Linked DNA regions of Homo sapiens. The protein of the gene in region 1 purifies or fractionates together with the protein of each later gene. This does not show direct contact. Each region holds a gene or a part of one and is shown in the gene's direction. Other genes may lie near its edges. The genes, in order: TBC1D3, PPP2R5C and FBXW8.

Evidence for each region.
Region 2: the proteins of TBC1D3 (region 1) and PPP2R5C purify together in Homo sapiens (affinity purification with western blotting; one study listed by BioGRID). This does not show direct contact.
Region 3: the proteins of TBC1D3 (region 1) and FBXW8 purify together in Homo sapiens (affinity purification with western blotting; one study listed by BioGRID). This does not show direct contact.

What each region holds. Positions count from the first base shown.
Region 1 is NC_000017.11:38,189,658-38,194,059, reverse strand, and holds the start of TBC1D3 (TBC1 domain family member 3), read left to right. Parts: upstream 1-1,504; 5' UTR 1,505-1,615; intron 1,616-3,029; 5' UTR 3,030-3,030; coding exon 3,031-3,102; intron 3,103-3,264; coding exon 3,265-3,350; intron 3,351-4,402. UniProt on the Homo sapiens protein: Acts as a GTPase activating protein for RAB5. Does not act on RAB4 or RAB11.
Region 2 is NC_000014.9:101,904,674-101,908,319, forward strand, and holds part of PPP2R5C (serine/threonine-protein phosphatase 2A 56 kDa regulatory subunit gamma isoform), read left to right. Parts: intron 1-1,728; coding exon 1,729-1,856; intron 1,857-3,646.
Region 3 is NC_000012.12:116,983,865-116,987,510, forward strand, and holds part of FBXW8 (F-box/WD repeat-containing protein 8), read left to right. Parts: intron 1-1,318; exon of another isoform or gene 1,319-1,341; coding exon 1,342-1,538; intron 1,539-1,789; exon of another isoform or gene 1,790-3,473; intron 3,474-3,646. UniProt on the Homo sapiens protein: Substrate-recognition component of the Cul7-RING(FBXW8) ubiquitin ligase complex, which mediates the ubiquitination and subsequent proteasomal degradation of target proteins.

The sequences.
Region 1 (4,402 bases):
ATGGCCAGCCACAGCCCCATCCTACTGCAGGCCTGTGTGGCTGCTAGAGAGGCCAGGCTCCTTTCCGCACCCCGAGGCTGCCCGATATGCTTTCTGCATCCTGTAGAAAACTGACCCACTATTCTCATACTGGTGCAACTTCTTCCATTACCTCAAAACTGGACAACGTGAACTTGTTTCTTGTCTCTTCTTGCTAGGGCTGTCACTGGGACAGTCCGAGATGCGGGGGTGGGGGGAGACAATGGATGAATGGATGGATGAATGGACAGTAGTCCAGGGAGATGTCCCTGTGTGTCCTGAACTGGGACCTTCCTCCAATGAGAAGCCTTCCTGAGTGAGTTTATACAGTCATCCCTTGGTATCCATGGATTAGTTCTAGGGTCCCCGGGGATGCCAAAATCCATGGATCCTCAAGTCTCTGACATAACATGGCCTAGTATTTACATATCAGCTATGCACATCCTCCCGTAGACATTAGACCATCCCTGGATTATTCATGATGTGTAATACAATGCAGATGCTACATAAATGGTCGTGATACTGGATTCTTTAGGGAATAATGACAAGAACAAACTCTGCACATGTTCAATAGAAACATAACCGTCCAATTTATTTTCTGAATATTTTCCATCTGCTGTTGCTGAATCTACAGATGCAGAGCTCCTGGATACGAGAGCCAAGTGTGCTTTGAGAGTAGGGTGGGTGAGGTTGCTAATGAGTACAGGGGAGCAGGTGTTGATCAGGAGGACCCTGCACTGGGGCATCTGGACGTCCTGCCTCAGGACTTGAGACTCCAGTTGGATGGCACAGGCAGACTCAGCCCAGGTCAAAGCCGTCCCCTTGAAGTTTCTTTTTATCCCAAGCTCTTTCTGGCCCCTGGAATTTGGCATCCCCTAGGCCCTGTGTGGAAGGACAGATGAACCAGGTTTTAGATAACATGTCTAGAAGAGTGAGCCCCTACTGTGTGCCCGGCACTTTCCCCACAGGATCCTCTAGCTAGAATATCCAAGGGTCATGGAGAGAAATACCCAGTTAAAATATCAGAAATGAAAAAGCGATACCATTAGAGACACTAAAAAGACCATTAGGTAATAGTACTAGCTTTTGTATTCTGAGATCCAACAGCAGCAGTCACTTCCCTCCACCGCTATGTGTATCCCAGGACCACCCTGGGCGGGGAGGGCTGAGGTTAGGGAGCAGCCATGGATGCTCTGATGCTGGCCCTGGGCCTCGGGGGTGACAGTGATGAGGAACTGGGTGCACACATGAGTGGGGCAGCCGGGCCTGGCCAGAGAAGCAGCACACACGTGCACAGATGTGTTTACCCACATACACATGTGCACGCACGTGCACAAACACATTGCAGGCAGGCATGTTGACGCCTCAGGCAGCGGAGGACCCTGACTCTGGGCGCTGCTGACCCGGGCAAGGCCCCACTGTGATTCGTGCCATGACCTCAGAATGTCACTGGTGCTTAGCACCTATCTGCTCTCTGGTCTGCCTCAGTGGTCTACAGCAGTTACACACAGGCAGTGGTATCTGTGAGCAGCTCTGTGGACTCAAAGGTTTTCTCCCTGAGAGGCATGACCCAGGCCAGCTGATTCATCAGAATCAGGTGAGCGTGACCTGCTCTCTTCCCTCCAGGCGGACTTGGGGGCAGTGGCTACGGTGCGGGCGGTGTTGGCCTCTGTGGGGCAGCTACCGAGGAGGGTCATCCCTGAGCACTCACCAGGCGCCCGTTCTACACTGCCCGTGTAGACGATTGGCTCTTTCGTCTCCATGGTGGCTTCGTAGAGTGGGTGCTGTTCCCAAATGTCCCCATTCGACAGATGAGACGTCTGGGGTCAGAGAGGCAGTAACCGGCCTGGGAATCCGGACATGACCCTGAGTTTTGCTCTCAGCCCTGCCGTGTGCTGTGCTGGAATTCAGGCCTGAACCCTGTGACCTCCCTGCCCTAGATCCCAAATCTGCCCAGGTTTCCCATCCCGATGGGGCAGAGCCTGGTCCTGGCAGAGCCACTGGTACAGAGCCACTGACGGTCCTCAGAACACCTCTGTGCCCTAAGCTGGGTCCTGATGGTCGCTGTGGGCCCCACTGAACACACATGGTCCCTTGTCCGGGGGAGCCTGCTGCCCTTGGGCAGCTGTGGAAAATGAAGGAGCCCTGGAGGGCTGGCTGAGGGGAGACTATCTTCCCTTGTGTTCAAAGGGGTCCGGGCACTAGGGTTCTCCCCAGGTATTTCTTGCTCTGCGTGGTCCTCTTGAGGCCTCGCCCTCCTTTTGCCTCGAGTATTCCCAGGAGGGACGGTCCATCCAGCTGTTCTCCAGGACCAAGGACCCACTGTTCTTCCTCAGTGACCCAGGAAAATGAAGCCTCCTCCTGTTGGGACGGCTCAGAATGGTGGACTCCACAGTCCCTCCGCGAGAGACGTGGTTTCCATGCGTACAATAGATCTTTCTCATCCCCCAAACCCAACACCCTCCTGCTCAACAGGCGTTATTCCTAAAGTGGCTTCACTGTTCAGACTGAAGAGCCACGGTAGCCAAAGTGATGAGCGGAGTAGAACCGAGCAGTCGGGAGAGATCTTGTTCCCTGTAGGAAACTGGGCATCGCTGAGGCCCTGAGCATCCCAGGAGGCCGATTGCACAGAGACCTCTGGTCGCTGACCCCAGTCTGCCTCCACATCCCTGGAATAGCCCATCATGGGCCCTTCACCCTTGGCAGGTGGAAACCATTCAACCTGCTGGGGCCAGTGTGTCCCCATTTCATGGCATTGGGGGACAACAGGATTCTCTGTCTAGGTCCCACTGTACTCAAGTCCTTGGGAAGATGCCCACCCCTGCTTGGGACTTGAGACTCCAGAGACTGGAGCAGCTGTGGGCCACTGGGTCTGGCCCCTTTTTCCCTGGGGGCGGCGGTGGAATGGGGGTTACGCAGCCAGCCAGCATCTGGGAGCCCGGCGAGAGCGGTTCAGGTGTTCTCCGAAGCCGCCGCGTACGGTGTGACCTTTAGACAATTCTGTCTCACAGGATGGACGTGGTAGAGGTCGCGGGCAGTTGGTGGGCACAAGAGCGAGAGGACATCATTATGAAATACGAAAAGGTACAAGTCGGTCTGCTTCTTGGAGGGAGGCCTCTTCCAGTGTGCCCTGGTCAAAGGGTCCTGGGCTCCCTAGGAGCACAGGGCAGGGACGGGTGGCCAATGCCCCCAGGCCCTTGCACCCTTTACCTTGGACCCCTCACCAAGGCTCCCTCTGGGCTACAGGGACACCGAGCTGGGCTGCCAGAGGACAAGGGGCCTAAGCCTTTTCGAAGCTACAACAACAACGTCGATCATTTGGGGATTGTACAGTGAGTCCTCTGCACTCCCCTCACCCCTAAAGCACCTGTCTCAGCTCAGGGATGGGTTTGCTTTTAGAAAGGCCTTTCTGACGCAGGACATGTCTCACCAGGTCGGGTCAACCTCCTTTCCAGGGACAGAACTCCTCCCTGACTCCCCTGCAGGTCCAGCCCGAGGTTGTTAGGCCAGAGGTGTGGGGCCCATCTAGGGAGCCGGTGGGAATGGAGACTGGGCTAGGTCAGGCCCCTGGGCGCTCAGCAGTTCTGTCGGCAAGTGAGCACAAGAGGAGCGGGGCAGCCTGAGGGTCTGGCCCTGTCTACTTGGAGACAAACCCGGTGAGATGCAAGGGTTATGGCCACAGGGTGAGGGGACTCCTGGCCCAGCCTCAGGGCTGTTGTGCAGCAGGTCTCTGAGGGCCCACCTGCCCCTGTTCTCCCCCATTCCCCTAGAGCTACAGCCCTCACTGTCCCGTGAGGGGAAAAGGCATGGTGACAATGGGGGCTGTAGCCCTAGGAGAACGGGGGAGAAGATGGGCAGGGCCCCGTTCTGGGCATCTCACGGTGAGGCCAGGGAGGCAGCAGGGCTCGCGGCTAAAGACCTGGGTCTGGTGCTGGGAAGGGATCTGGGGCCGGGTAAGAGGAGCCCAGCCAGGAGCCCATCCCTCAGGGATCACAGGATGGAGAGACAGAGGATCCCTGGGGAGGTAGGGCGGGAGGGAGCTGACGAGCCGTGCCACTTCTGAAACGCAGGGTGTGTGGCTCGGGTGCAGGGAGAGGCAGGTGGATGCTGGGAGGTCAGAACCTGCAAGGGCCTTGGGGCTGTCAAGTGGGGTGGGCCCCTGGTGCAGCCAGAGTACACCGGGCAGGTCTCAGGGCAGGCTCCCTTGACCCTGGCGGGGGGATGTGGTCACTCCCTGAGGGACTCCTGTCAGGGCCCGGTCGCCCACCCTGGGCGGCCCCCATCCCATCTCAGGGCTAACCTTTCTCAGCTCCAGCAGAAAGCACCACCTCGAGTCCAGGACGGGCAGCCCCATTGGGCAGCCTGACCGCCCCCCACGCCAGGG
Region 2 (3,646 bases), on another chromosome or scaffold:
CTCTCAGCATCCCACCCATACACACCGCACCACAACCTCAGGATCTCTAAGCTGTAGGCTTCTGGCAGGAGAAGCGTCAGCCCCATGCTGCTCAGAGCCTCCAAGTGCTGCTGTGAGTTGTGTGCAGATGAAGGGTGTTGACAGTAGTTATACAGGTGAAGCTCCTCTTCCCAGAGGCATACATGCTGTGATGGGGACAGGCCAAGTGTCCTGGTGACTGCCTCGAACTCCCAGATAGTTCTGTGGAACGTGCACTTGTGTGCTGGTTTACTACGGAGAGAAAAAGCAAATAGGGTAGGGTATGAACAGTGTTGAATCTGGGTGGAGGGAGGTGGGCACTCATTATGTTAGTCTTGCAGCTTTGTCTGTTTTTGAAAGTTTTAGTAATAAAAATGGGGGGCTGAGTGCAGTGGCTCACGCCTGTAGTCCCAGCACTTTGGGAGGCCAAGGCGGGTGGATCACCTGAGGTCAGAAGCTCGAGAGCAGCCTGGCCAACATGGTGAAACCCCGTCTCTACTAAAAATACAAAAATTAGCCAGGTGCGATGGCGCATGCCTATAGTCCCAGCCACTCAGGAGGCTCAGGTAGGAGAATCGCTTGAACCCAGGAGGCAGAGGTTGTAGTGAGTCGAGATAGCACCACTGCACTCCAGCCTGGGCAACAGAGTGAAACTCCATCTCTTTTTAAAAAACAAAAATGGATGGGCTAGGCGTGGTAGCTCACGCCTGTAATCCCAGCACTTTGGAAGACCAAGGCAGGTGGATCACCTGATCTCAGGAGTTCGAGACCAACCTGACCAACATGGCAAAACCCTGTCTCCACTAAAAATACAAAAAAGCCGGGTGTGGTGGCGTGCGCCTGTAATCCCAGCCCCTCAGGAGGCTGAGGCAGGAGAATCGCTTGAACCCGGGAGGCAGAGGTTGCAGTCAGCCAAGATCACGCCATTGCACTCCAGCCTGGGCAACAAGAGCAAAAATCCATCTCAAAAAAAAAAAAGAAAAGAAAAATGGGGGAACCACCCTCTAGTGGCTTCCCGTGAGTAAGCGCCAGTGCACTCAGGCCCTGTTCCCCTGCCCTCCTACTGTTCATGCCCCCACTGCCCTCTGCAGTGGTCCTCAGCCAGCCCCGTGCTGACAACTCAGGACCTCTCCTCCCTCTGGTCCTTGCTCAGATGTCACCTCCTCCCCATTGAAGCCACCCCACCGCACACGCACCGCCGCTGCCTGTTCTCCTGCCCTGCTGCCCTTTGTATGTGACTTATCGTTTCTAGTAAATTAATAATCATCCATCACCTGTCTCCTCCCCACTAGAATGTAAGCTCCGTGGAGTCAAGGATTTCTGCCTTGCTTTGTTCAGTGCTGAATGCTCAGCAGAACACAGCACGCCCTCTTGACCTGACAGATGGGGGAGGCGGGTGGATAGGTGGAATGGCCTCCTTTGAGTTGTCTCCTCAGCATCTAGCCAGCATCTAGCATAAATGTTTACGGAATAAGTAGAGAAATAGGTGACAATGTTCTTGATGAGTTGATGTACAAGAAGTTGTCTGCCTCTTTGTTGAAGGCTCTTCAGGGTTACAGGTTACAGTCTAGAATATTTTGAATTTGTAGAAATAATCATAATTTTCTGGTCCAAGGTAGTTCATTACCCGACTCACAGGTTTAACAGCAAGGACAGCCACCTGATGTCTCAGGCACAACCTCCAGCAAGCCATCCACTTGTGTCTTTCAGGTGGCAGAGCGAGCTCTCTATTACTGGAATAATGAATACATCATGAGTTTAATCAGTGACAACGCAGCGAAGATTCTGCCCATCATGTTTCCTTCCTTGTACCGCAACTCAAAGACCCATTGGAACAAGTAAGAAAGAACTGGCTGCCATCTTTTTCAGTCATTTTAAAATATGGCACGTTTTACTGCTACTTCAGTAAGAATAAATATCAGAATTTTAAATATCAATTAAAAAACAAGAAGGTCAGTTGCTTTGTGGACTCATAAATTAAGTAGCAGCGTGGGTTGTTTCTGTGGCCGTTGAATTTACCACCTTATACCTTCATTCCTGCCAGTATAGAGGCACATTGGTTTGCAGCCACCTCCCAGTAGCAGCAGTTTCTAGGCCTCTTCCTGAGCGTCCTGCAGAGAAGCTGAAGGTCTCTGCAGAGCCCAGTGGGGCTCAGCCCCGGCGGGGGCACAGTGGCCACTGCATTCTCGGGGTGTCTATTGAGCTCTGCTGACATGCACCCTGGATGAGCCCCTGTGTGAGACCCAAGAACCACCCCACAGTGGTCACTACCTGGAGAAGAAGAGGGAAGCCAGGTGATCTGAACACAGCCCCATAGTCCCAGCAGCCAAAAACATTTCCTCCTACTCCGCTCCTTCATCTTTTGACTTAAAGAGGATGAATAAATCCGTTTACTGAGCAATAGTCTTCTGAGACTTTAAAAGGAAACTGTTGATATGGGTGCCACATTATTTATTTATTTTTCTTTTTTAAAATTTGTATTTTATTTGTTTATTTTTAGACAGGGTCTTGCTATGTCCCCCCGGCTGGAGTGTAGTGTCACGATCATGGCTCACTTCAGCCTCGACCTCCTGGGCTCAAGCAAACCTCCTGCCTCAGGGTCCTGAGTAGCTGGGACTACAGGCACCCACCGCTACGCCTGGCTAATTTTTGTATTTTTTGTAGAGATGGGGTTTTGCCATGTTGCCCAGGCTGGTCTCGAACTCCTGGACTCAAGTATTCCACCTGCCTCAGCCTCCCAAAGTGCTGGGACGACGTGAGCCACTGCGCCCAGGCCATATTATTTATTAATATGGTATCATCTAATATTCCTGCTATTTAAAGAAATACGACTGAGTTTTTCTTTCCCCACCTTCTTTCATCTCTTTCCATTGTATATTGTAATTATAACTCAGAACTTAAAGAAGAGCAGGTTATGCTATCCAGCCCTCCTCCCTTAGTTTATGGGTGAGGAAGGTGAGACTTGGAGGGCATTCGCAGCCCAGTCTGCGGTCCCAAAGCTGGTGAGCGGCACTCTGGCCCGGTGCGGTCTCCTAACTCGCAGTGTCTATTGGGCACCCCTCTGGCTGTGCTGCACAGTCACCCTGCTGCCGGCGGACCAGCCCTCTCCCATGCACCCTCTCTCCTTGTCCGCTCGAGGCTGCAGGTGGCACTGCCTCCTTCCCAGAATTCTGCAGGGCAGCAGCCAGACAGGTGTTAGCCCTGGAGCTCTGAGCCAGACCCCCGAGCGAGCGTCCAGCCAGTCCACTCGCGTCAAGTCTTCTGAGGGTTGCCGCCCAGAAATTCAACAGAGAAGGGCAGGCAGATCAGAGTGAGGATGACTTTGGTTCACATTCCTGCCTTCCTCCTGAGCAGCTGTCTGAACCCGGGGAAGTTAGCTCTCACCAGGTCTTTCTTAGCCACAGTTTCTCTTTGGAAAAACTGAGAAAGTAAAGTGCTTTGCCTTGCAACAATCTTCACTTGGTTGTGAGGATTAAGATAAAGTTAATATGCGTAAAGTACCTGGCTTATGATAGGCACCAAGTAAGCATTTGCTGTCACTTAGTGGTTGTAGGGCCAGCAGCCATGCTGATAGCAGTGGAGGCAGCAGCCAAGACCCTCATGGCAATAGCGTGGTGGTTGTAGTTGT
Region 3 (3,646 bases), on another chromosome or scaffold:
TCACAGTCCTATGTAGTAGGTAATGTTGTCTTCAACTTTACAGAAAGGCTAACAGGCTCAGAGCTGTTAAGCAGCTCCCCTAAGTCCGTCAGCTAACAAGTGCTGGAGCTGGATTTGAACTCAAATAGTCACAAACTGTTATCTCCACACATTTATTTCTTGGTGAATTTTGAAAAATTGAATCAATTGGAATTGGAGCAAGGCATTAACCAGCCTAATGCAGAGAGTAATCATTTTCTTGGGTAAATCTTCGAAGGGAAGGAAATAGCTTGGGAATGATAAAAAGAAATTATTTTTGAGGAAAGAAGAATCAATGAAATGCTAAGTACAGAAAAGGTTATCTGACTGGAAAAGCATAAGCTCCTGTAGACCACTGGTCCTAAACTCCAGTGGACATCCCCAGAGTTACTGGTGCCTGACAGTCTGCATTTCTAATAAGTCGCCACGTGGTACTGATGCTACCGGTCTGGAAACCACCCTGGAGAAAGGGTGTGTGGCCAGTGTGTGAAAGAGGAATTAATCTGGGTAGCAGCATTCCAGGTGCTGGGAGAAGAGTGGAAAATCGGCATTTTTGGCAAGTGTGGGATATTGAAGCACAGGTTTTAGAGCTGTGCAAAATAAAGCACTGCTGCTAACAGAGGCTTTAGGAGGATGGCGCTGAGGAAGGATGTGAAATTCAGGCTGAGCATCCCTAATCCAAAATTCCAAAATGCTTTGAAACTGTTTAAGCACTGACATGATGCTACATGTAGGAAATTTCACATCTAACTTCATGTGATGGGTTTGTAGCCAAAACACAGCCAAAACTTTGCTTCATGCACAGAATTATTTAAAATATTGTATAGACCAGGTACGTTGGCTCACACGTGTAATTCCAACACTTTGGGAGGCAGAGGCAGGAAGATTGCTTGACCCCAGTAGTTCAAAAAAGCAGCCTGGGCAACATAGTGAGACTGTGTCTCAGCTAAATTAAAAATTAGCTGGGTATGGTGGCACACGCCTGTAGTCCTGTCTATTTGGGAGGCTGAAGCAGGAAGATCACTTAGGCCCATCAGTTCAAAAATGCAGTGAGCTATGATAGCACCACTGCACTCCAGCCTGGGCGAAGAGTGAGGCACTGTTTCTAAAAAATAAAAAAGTAAAATAAAATATTGTATAAAATTACCTTCAGGCCATGTGCATCAGGTATATATGAAACGTAAGTGATTTCGTGTTTAGACTTGGGTCTCATTTCCAAGGTATCTCCGTTAAAAAATTTTCCTTTGTGTTGCATGTTTTTAAAATAATTGAACATATTAAGTAAATTTAAAATTGTTACCTGCATTGTTTCTTGCTGCATAGGGTTTCTTAATATTTGGGATTTAAGGACCGGAAAGTACCCTGTTCATCGTTTTGAGCACGATGCAAGAATACAGGCACTAGCCCTCAGCCAGGACGATGCAACCGTGGCCACAGCTTCTGCTTTTGATGTCGTGATGTTATCCCCCAATGAGGAGGGGTACTGGCAGATAGCTGCGGAATTTGAAGTTCCGAAACTGGTGAGCTTTTTAGTCTGGTCATCTTATTTTCTATTCTTAGAATCTCTGGGTCTAATGTAAGCACGTACTAATGGTGTTGGTAACTCCCATTCACTCAGAGCTTCCTGCGGGCCTTACCTCCATAAGTCTAACTACAGCCTTACAAAATAGGTAGTAGCATTTTCCCCATTTACCAAGAAGCCACTTCAGGCTGCTTAGAGCAGTGAACTGACTTGCCCCAGTTCTCAGAGGTAAGAAGTTACGATTCAAACCTCAGGGCTGACTTCAGGGCCAGAGCTGCTCATCACTGTGGTTCCTTGGCCTTCTTCAGACTAACACGGTGGAATCTCACCCTTGGGAATCAAAGATCAGTTTGACCTAATATATAAGTGAGAATGAGTTCAGTGGTGTTATCCCAGTCCATCTGGGAAGGAAGGTTTCCATTCCTACACTTTCTTCATCCCAAGACTGTCTCACCTGAAATTTAAAGTAACTCTTGCGTGAAGATAGATTTAAGTTGGTGTTAATTGGGTAGCCATGTTCCAGGATGTCATGTGTGCAGCTCAGCCAGCCTTAAGAATTCTTTATGTCGAGCTTATTTCTGAGTTCATTGGTACAGGAACCTCTAGATTTGTAGAGTGGGAGATGATTTGGTGTTAAGAAGGAAGTGCTCAAATCTGTCTATGCTGAGTTAGGATTTAATTTAAACAAACTTGATTTTGGCACTGGTAGGAGAGTGAGCAGAAAAGCCAACACTGAGTGATGAATTGAGGGCCTGACCTGGAACCAATCCTGTTCCTCCCTCTTTCTGTCTGTTGGGAATCTTCTTAGACTAGAATAACTTAGAAAGCCATGGCATCACTGCTTCACCTCCAGGAGCGTCTGCACTTTGAGTATAGTGCTCCCCTAAAATGGCCTGATGCTGTCAGCTCATCTGGGTTTTATTAGAAAAATGTGAAAGTACATTTCTGTTCTCAAAACTTCCATAGTACTTACTATTTAGTCTGTGATTAAAGAATACTGTGTCACAAGGTCAGGAGATCGAGACCATCCTGGCTAACACGGTGAAACCACGTCTCTACTAAAAATACAAAAAATTAGCCGGGCGTGGTGGTGGGCGCCTGTAGTCCCAGCTACTCAGGAGGCTGAGGCAGGAGAATGGCGTGAACCCAGGAGGCGGAGCTTGCAGTGAGCCGAGATCGCCACTGCAGTCCAGCCTGGGCAACAGAGCGAGACTCCGTCTCAAAAAAAAAAAAAGACAAAAAAACAACAAAAAAACGAATACTGTAGACCAGCAATCACTGTATGGACCCAGATACTTACTTAAGATGCCAGTTTCTCTGTAAAGTGCAAATCCTGCCTTGGCAATAAGGTGGCATCCTGGCACAGACTGGAAGCTTTTTGAACTAGTTTACAGCCCCCAGCAAATGGCACCACCACTGTCAATCTGAGCCTCTTGGTCTGTCAGAAAGCCAACACGGAGATAAAGTTAAAGGGCTAGACGGAGGATATCAGTTGTAGGAAAATGAGACATGATTTGGGGGAGTGAGAGGAACCGAGCAGCCATTGTTCAAGGCGGGTTTTATGCACGTTTTAGGAATTATTTTTCACTTTGAGTGAAAGGTTCCCACAAAATGCTCTGAGTATCCTTGGAAAAGGCACCCCTGGCCCGAAGAGCCAAGCCAGTTTTGTCTTGTCCATATACGCCCCTGAATGGCAGTGGCAGTGTTCCCAGGTCTGCGATATTAGCCTAGTGCGGCTGTCCTTTGTGATGGACCCGCAGCTTGCGGAGCTGGGCCCGAGTATTAGCAGAGTCCCCCGGATGTTGACGCTCCCTCCAGCTCTTCTGGACCGTGTTCTGGAGGCCGGCTTTGAACTCTTTGGCATATGGTCAGGGCAGCGCTGTCCTTTCACACTGTGGATTTTCATAATTAGTGTGGCTCACCTTCTATGTGTCCTCTCGTGATTTACTCGCAGAGGCGAAAGCCTGTTGCGAACGGCACCGCGGAGAAATGGGCCGCCTGTGGATGGACAGAATCAAATTATTCTTGAAAAGTGCGTCTCAGACTCGTGCACATTAGAGAAAGTGCCGGCGGTGACGCAGTCAGGACTGGGGAGCGGGGTGGGTA